Linked DNA regions of Homo sapiens: region 2 is linked to region 1. The links come from fine-mapping of genetic effects on gene expression. A gene starts in region 1. The other region holds a variant in brackets. All regions are shown on one strand. Distances are between the middles of the regions. Region 1 holds the start of ALPK3 (alpha kinase 3). Region 2 overlaps ZNF592 (zinc finger protein 592).

Region 1 (4,240 bases):
TCTGAGGGACAGCAGACAGTACGGTGGCTCCCTCCAACACAGGTCAGGCCTTACTAGAGAAGCAGGAACTGCCTCGCCTCCTCCACTCCCCACTGCAGCCCCAGTCACATTCTCCCCACTTTGGCCAAAGGCTTTTCCAGATGCCTGATAAATCTGGCTGTCCTTGTCTCTCAGAACCTCTAGGGGTCTGTGGCTAGCCAGCAGGAGCAGTAAAAAACTCTGCAGGGGCAAAACACAGCCCAAAGTCCAAAGCTTTCTCCCACTCCTGCTGTCCTGCCCCCTCCAGATACTTGATGAAAGAGACTCCTTTTAAGAACATTCCCATTTAGGTCCAAAGGGACTTAAGCCAGCCACTTCTATCCTGCCTCTAGCTCTCAGGCTGGCACAAGCTTTGTGCTCATGAGGTGTACAATTAACATTTATCTATCATACAACTGCTCAGCCAGGCAGCAGCACTATGTCCATTCTCCAGCCCTTTTCCTAAAAGCCCAGATCCCCTGCCCTCCCCATTCTGCCTGGTTTTCAAGGCACTCTTTCCTCCCTTCCTTCATTGCTGCTGTCTCCAAGAAGGACCCTGGTTCCGCCTCTTCTGTTTGTTCCACTGGTATTGACAAAGGCCAAACACAGGAGGCAAAGCCCAGACAAGTCACTGTGACAAATGTGAGGCTCCCACAAGGGAGTCAGCTTCTCTAAGGACTGGAATAAATGTCCAAATTTCATTCTGGTTTATCTGTAGAGCCAGGAGTAAGAAAAAGGGGTATTCTTTCCTGGCAGCCAGGGGCCTTGTTGAGTCTGACTCAGTCACTAACATCAGTCCTCAGCCCTGCCCCAGACATGTGACACCATTTGACGAGTTTTATGCAGAAACCGGTTCCGGTTACATTTGAACTTTCCCAACTCCAAGGTCAGTAGGACTCAGCCAATTCACGAGGAAGTGCCCAGGACTTTTCCTGAATGTCCTCGATGCCTGTTTTTATGCTGTTTTAGGAATGGAGAACAAGAGGTCTCTGGACAGCCTCTTGGAGGAATGGCCGTTTTCTGCATAATACACAAGTCAAGTTCTCAGGCTATGAAACAACCACTATCTCAACACATTTCCCTTTGGAAAACAGACTCCAGAAGTGAAGGGAAACTGAGCTGCCCACAGGGGGCAGGAAGTGTCTGTCTCCATGGCAATGCGCCTGTCCACGTGTGCCTGTGTGCCTTTGATTTCCTGGATGCCTGTCTATTGTCTTTGTGTCTTTATATCTGTGGGTGGCCTAGCTGCTAAAACAAAGCTTCCACACCTCTTGAACTCTTGGAAGACCAGTGAAGGGCTCATCAGTTCCACACCTCCCTTGGCATTTCACTTCCCCAAACTGGACAGGGCACTTGGCTCCCTCAGAGCTGCAAGTCCTTAATTCCCAACATCTCCAGACAGTACCTCATCCCACCCCCTATCTCACCAGCCCCCACTCAGGTCCTGGGGAGGACCCAAGTCCTCGGCCCAGTAGAGGAACCTTATTTACAAAGGTTTATTTCTTCCTGGAGAACCTCCCCACCCTGAGCTAAGCAGCTCCTACTCTGGGCAGCCCCCCAGCACCCTCTCCCTGTCCCCACCAGTGCTCTCCCCCTCCCTTCCTGCCAGGGAGGAATTTCAGCCACTCTGGCTTTCCTTATCGCTAGCTGTGGAATCCCAAGCCAGGGAGTAGCAGGGTAGGGGGCAGGGGAGATAAGGAAAGCCTTCAGACCCCATGAAATCACTCCAAAGTGGAGCCTTTGTCCTCTCTTGAGCCTCGAATTGCCAGAGGCCTGAGGCGCATGGATCAGGAGGGGTCACAAGGGGCTATGAAAGCCATTCCAGCCCGGCCATGTCCCCAGGCCCTGGGCCTTGGGGCTGAGAGGGCTCGAGGGCGCAGGCCCAGCCCAGGCCTCCAGGGGCCAGGCCGCCCTCACAGGGACTGATCCCAGGGCATCGCCGGCCCGACGCCGCCCTGCCCCTTGGTGCCACTTACCTGGTCTCGGGCCGCACGCTGAGCAGGTAGCTCCGGCTGGCTGGGCTGGGGATCCACACGGGGCCGTCGTCCTCACCGTCGCCCCCCGCCCCCGACCGCCCACCCGCGCCCCAGCCCCGGCTGGGGGCCCTCCGCGACCCCATGGCACCGCCCTCCCCGACCGCCGGCCCCGCACTCGCCGCTGCCTCGCCTGTCCTCCAGGCCCCGGCCCCCGGGCCCCTGCCCGCCGCCGCCGCTCCCGCCCGCGGCTGACGCGCGCCCCTATTTATAGCCGGTGGCCGGGCCGTCGTCACCTGCTGCTGTCCCTCCCCTGGCCTGGCCCGACCCGGGCAGCGCGGCTTGGAGACGCCGGGGGGCGCCGGGGCCCATGTGCCCGCCCCAGGGCCGGCTCCGAGTCCGCTCCCTTGGCGGCCCTGGTGTCTGCAGTAGCGCCGCGTCTGGAGAGGCCCGGGAGGCCTCGGGAGGAAGGCGCAGCGGGTGTCCTGGTCATGGAGGACAGGCCCCTTCGTGGAGCTCCCGGGACCCGGCTCCCGGCCGGCCTGCTCATGTCCCGTGTGGCATATGAGGGGTCCACGAGGCCTGGCCGGGGCCAGGGGAGCCAGGTCAACCGCTGGCCAGCTTGGGCTAGACCGCGGGAGACCAGGGAGCCAAAGAACCAGCCCTCTTCCTGGCACCAGCCGTGACTGACCCTCGCCTTGCCTCGCCAGTGGCTGTTGGCCCAGCACATAGACAAGCCAAGCCACCTCCATTAGTGACCTGAGTCCCTGGGAGGCCGGAACCCCGTGGGATCTCTCTCCTGTCTCCCCCAACACCCCCAGTAACTAGCATAGATTAGGGGCTCAATTAACACTTCTAGATCACTCCTTCGGCCTCCATTTCTCAGCACCAGAGGGGGAAATGGGCTGAGTCCTGATACCCAGAAAAATAATCAAATCATGCAACAATTTCCAAGAACTAGTGCCAAGCACTGCCGAAACCTGGTCTAAATATTGGAAGTCCCCACAGACTTTTTTTTTTTTTGAGACAGAGTCTGGCTCTGTCGCCCAGGCTGGAGTGCAGTGGCGCTATCTCGGCTCACCGCAACCTCCGCCTCCCGGGTTCATGCCATTCTCCTGCCTCAGCCTCCCGAGTAGCTGGGACTACAGGCGCCCCACACCACGCCCGGCTAATTTTTTTCTTTGTATTTTTTAGTAGAGACGGGGTTTCACCGTGTTAGCCAGGATGGTCTCGATCTCCTGACCTCGTGATTCGCCCGCCTGGGCCTCCCAAAGTGCTGGGATTACAGGCGTGAGCCACCGCGCCCGGCCGGAAGTGCCCACAGACTTTTTTATCCATCCTTCTTTCTCCTATTTTCCTGAGAGCATCCAGAAAGTACCTGAAGCTAAATGGCTGTAATTGTTAGAAAGTGGGAGCAAAGGAGTCCAACCCTTCTGTTTTCGAAGCTGCACCCATCCCTACTCCTTTTGGAAATGGCTTTCCCCTACTCCGTGTGGTTCCAATGGCAACTACCTTGTTCCCACATGATCCCACTCCTGGCCTCAGCTGACTGCCATCAAACTCAAGCCAGGCTATTCACGGTACCCAATCTCCCTGACTATAGACCCTGGCTGTGCCAATAAAGTTCTTCTCTAAAACATTTTTAACTGGAATTGGGAAAGAAAACCAGACCCTCTGTGGTGGAAAACTGAGCTGTGAGGCCACAGCTGTCAGCAGCCATGTTTCCTGCCCTGTAGAGTAAGCCAGTTTACAGTGAGGAATAAGGAAGCTAGCACAGAGAGAAGCAGAGGCAAAGGACACAGGGTCCTGGTGGCTTTCAGGTGCCCTCGTTCAGGTGTTCCTGGGTTCCAGCTTTGTCCCTGGCCTTCCTGCAGGTTGGCAGTTCAAACTTTCCTTGGAATCTGTGTACCAAAAAAGTTCTCCCTTTGCTATTTCCAATTTAGGCTTCTGTTGGTAGAAGTATCCTGACCAATACTAATGTGTTCTCTCCTAGTGATCCCAAATTCATCTCTTGATCACATGTCCCCATTCATTCTTGCTCTTGGCTCTCTGGAGGTGCACAGAATCTTCAGTCATCTACAGGGTAGTCTTTCAAATATTTGAAAACCCACTTGGAGTTCTGGTTCATTTGTTTAAATCGTGTATGCTGGTTCAAGCAGCAGAGAAAAAAAGGGGGTGGGTGGGAAAGCATGTGAACACTCATGGGTCAGGTTAGGGCACAGGTGCTAGAGGCCGGGGTCACAGGGTCT
Region 2 (4,240 bases), 55 kb after region 1:
CCGGGTTCAAATCCTAGTTCTACTACTTACTAGCCTTGAGACCTGGGGGAAGATTCTTCATCTCTGTCTGTTTCCCCATATGTAAAATGGGCTATTATAGGGATCAAATGAGTTAATATTTATAAAGCTCTTAAAACACTGTCTTTCACATAGCAAATACATGTTTGTTAAGCATTATGCCACCAACCTCAGTGGCCACCAAGCTTTCCCTCCTAAGTTTTCAGAGTGCCCCAGAAATTGCATGCAGAGAGGACAGAAAGACAAGGGAAGTAAAGCCGGGTTTAGTTTACCCCTCCACACAACTCCTCCTCCAGTGCTCGGGATGCCCGCTGAAGCTGAAGAAGCAGAGGGCCAAGCAGGGGCCAGGGGGGCAGGTGAGCTGCAGAAATCATGGCGGGGGCAGATAGCAGTGTAGGAAGAGGTCAGCACAGAGCAGGTGATGAGAATGAGGGTCAAAAAGAGGAAAGTCGGCAGAACTCTTTTTTAAAAACTAGGTGATCCCTAACTGTAGCCAAACATGAGAATCACCTTGAGAACTTTGGAAGCTACTAATACTTGGCCACTACCCCTCTAAGATTCAGATTTAATTGACTAGCGTTGAGAAACACTGGTTAACGGCCCATCAACTACATATACCCACAAGTTACCTAATAAAAGGACTCATTCCCTGAATTTCTCGTTCTGCCCATTCTCACTCTAATCCTGCATTCCCTCGCTTGACTTCATTTTTGTCCAGTTTTGACAGACCAACATTTAGTTTGGATTCTAAATAGTAATACAGACAATATTAATGTAAAAATGTAGAAGGGAAGGGAAAGAAACTAATTATCTCAATTCTACAGAAAGAAACTAGAGAAAACTTTCCTGAAGTTTTTCCTTTTCTTATTTGGGCTTTCACATTTCAAAACATAAACTAACAAGCAGACACTGTGCTGTCCAAATGAGGACAAAAGTTAGAGATCAGGGGCCAAGGGGTGTCTTAGGTCTGCTGTCCAATAGTAAATAAATTGGGAGGTGCTCCAATGAGTATACTAGGTTATTTACTCCAGATTAACCTTGGTTCCTCTGGCCACCAGTTTCTGTTGGGTTATCCAGACAGTCTCTCTCACATGCGCAATCATGCAGTTTGGATGCAGAATGGCTAACAAACCTGAGTGTCAGGCTTCACTTCCAGGCTGGCTGCTTCTCCCAGGTCACCCTAATCACACACGCATGCTTGGATGTGTAGGAATCTTACAGTTTATAACACACTCTTCACACTGCACAAGGAACTCACCAGTGAGTGAACTAAGACTGGCACTCAGGCTCCTGCCTGCCCCCAAGGACCAAGCTGCCCCTGTACTTTGGACTCCAAACCAGCAGGTCAGTTTTCACATTTCAAGTTTCCCAACACACTCATCTTCCCAAGGTGCTACTGAATAGGGCACAAATTTTCCTTCAATTTGGTATTGAGACATTCACCACAGCCCTTGCCATAATGATGACACAACTTAGAGTGTTATAAGACCAAGATTAGACAACATTGCTCTAGAACACTGTTCTAGATTAGAGCTTCTTCCAACACTAGAAAGATTCAGGACTATCGGAGCCAAAGAGATTCTAGAAAACCATTAAATTTAAACCACTTACTCTACAAGCAAGGAAACTGAGGCCCAGAGAGGTGAGGTAATCAAATAAGAAAAGGGACATAAACTGAAGAGTTTTTATTACTGTGGAAGATTCCTGTTATTCCTGGCAAGGTCAGGGGGCCCTTGCTTGCCCTTCCCATCAGAGCAGCTGAAGTCTCCTACTCACAGTTACCCTTCAAATCTCTCCACCAAATACAGGGGATAAGGCTTATTTAACCCTCAGACCAGTGCTTCTTAGACCTGGAGCGATCCTAATGCCTAACCCCAGCTCAGACCAATTAAACCAGAAATTACAGAGGTGGAGCCACCATAGGATCCCCAAAATCCGTACCTTCCCCCATGGGTTCCTTAAACCCTCCCCAGCCTGAAGGGCTTTTGCACTTGCTCTTTTCTCCAATCTGATTGCTCTTTTCTCAGATATCTGCGTGGCTCCCTCTCTCACTTCCTTCAGACCTCCGCTCAAAGGCCATTTAATCCATGAGATTTCTCTGACTTCTCAATTTAAAATAGAAGACCTTCCTCCCCACCAAACCCCTCATCCACCAAGCCTGCTTCATTTTTCTCCATAACACTTTTCACCATCTCTTATATTTTATCTTACTTATTATCTATAAATGCATACAAACCAGAATGAGCCCTATAAGAGTAAGATTTGTGTTTATTTTGTTCCTTGTTATATTCCCAGTGCCTAGAATAGTGCCTGGCACATAGCAGACCATCACATATATACTCTAAATGAACACATCAGGAACACAAATCTCAAAATATGACTCATACCAAAAGATCATAAAGAAGCAGCC[G/A]TTTGGTTGATTATACCAAAAACACTTCTTCACTGATCTCATCTTGGCACAACCCTTATCAAAAACAGGATAGAAGCCTAATGAAACAGAAACCATTCAGAAATACTTTCAGAAATAAGTATTTCTAGACAATTAATCCAATCCAATGGGTTTGTTCGTCAAAGACAATTTGTTCTGAGAAATAAACATACGGAAACAGAAAATGAACTTGAAAGGTGATGGAACAAATGGCTTTCAGATATCATCTTAGCATATGTGCAGATTCAGAAGAAAGCCTGAGAGCACTGACAGCTGTACTCAGACAGGAAGAGTTTTCAGCAGACCAGAAAGAACAGACAGGCTCCTCTCCTGGGATTACAGCCCGTGAGGTGAAGGTGCCATCTGGGATACTATTGCCTGCTTACCCCCAGACCCCTCAACCTGATGAACACCTTCAGCAACCTGAGGATGACCCTTCCTTTTCCTTTCTCCTACTTACACCCCACCTGCTTCCAAAACTCACTTGAAACCACTGACAACACTTTAAACTCTACCACATTGGAAGCACTGGAAGCCTTTGTCAAGGCAGCCACACAGCAGTTGGGGAGCATCCCGCCATTACCAAGTCTCACTGATGTCATCTGCTCCATCCCATGTCTGCCGACCCCCTGGTCCTTGCTCTTTCCTTGCCCTCTCTGGTCTTTCCCTACTTGGTCATCCTGCAAATTTCTTTAAGACTAATCCTTCCCAAACACCATTTTTATCAGGTCACTTACTCTGCTCAAAAACTCCCTGGGCCGGGCATGGTGGTTCATGCCTGTAATCTCAGCACTTTGGGAGGCCAAGGTGGGTGGATCACCTGAGGTCAGGAGTTTGAGACTGGCCTGGCCAACATGGCGAAACCCCATCTCTACTAAAAATACAAAAAAATTAGCCAGGTGTGGTGACGCATGCCTGTAATCTCAGCTACTTAGGAGGCTGAGGCAAGAGAATTGCTTGAATCCGGGAGATGGAGGTTGCAGTGAGCCAAGATTGTGCCATTGCACCCCAATCTGGGCAACAAGAGGGAAACTCTGTCCTAAAAAAAAAAAAACTTCTTCCTGTAGCCTACCATATTAGGTCCAAGCCCTGGGCCAGGCTTTCAAAAACCTCCATAATCTAGGCCTAAGACCAGGGCTACTGTGTTTTTCAGCAGCTGCCCCTCACTGGTCTTGCAGCACCAACTCACTGCCTCCCTGCTGAACAGCACCAGTAAGAGATGGGGTATAGAGACTGGAACAGACTGGACCATGTCTCTGAACTCCGTTCCTACTGAGAGCATCCTCTTCATCCTCCTCTCTTCCACCCAACCACACTCCTTCTCTCCTACTCCAGCTGCTAGCTACACTGCCCTTTGCTACCCTATCTCTACACCACACACACACCGCAGACATGCACGCATGTACTTTCATTCATTCAATAATATTGAGCACCATTACTGTGTGCCAGGCCTTGTTCTAGTCACTGTGGATACCACAGTGGACACCACAGTGAACAGAACAAATGAAATTCCTGCCCATGTAGAGCTGATAATCCACTGGAAGGAGACAGACATACAGAGACAGATTCATAAAAGTCATACTTATTCTCTTTCTCAACCAGGGCTCCTCATATGACATCAGAAGAGTGAATATATTCTCAGTTCTGAAGTGAGAGAGCAAGCCATGAGAATATGGGGGAGAAGAGGTTTTAGGCGGAGGGATGAACAAGAAGGAAGAGAAAGGCCCTGAAGCAGAAGGAGTAGGAGATATGGCTGGGAAGCAGATGATGGCAGGCCATTGCTAGGTCTTTGAC

The links. PIP is the estimated chance that this variant, and not a neighbour inherited with it, causes the effect.
Region 2: its variant is the best candidate, but not a certain one, in a credible set for the expression of ALPK3 in iPS cells (HipSci, PIP 0.53).

What each region holds. Positions count from the first base shown.
Region 1 is chr15:84,815,350-84,819,589 of GRCh38, reverse strand. ALPK3 (alpha kinase 3) reads right to left here and starts at 2,234. Exons shown (of 14, transcript NM_020778.5): 1 at 1,995-2,234. The coding sequence starts at 2,137. RefSeq lists enhancers at 1-478, 2,606-3,136.
Region 2 is chr15:84,760,228-84,764,467 of GRCh38, reverse strand. The region is part of intron 1 of ZNF592 (zinc finger protein 592); the gene reads right to left. Among named protein-coding and RNA genes, the nearest start is that of ZNF592, 14 kb to the right of the region's middle. RefSeq lists an enhancer at 3,353-3,854. The variant G/A (reference allele first, on the strand shown) is at 2,429.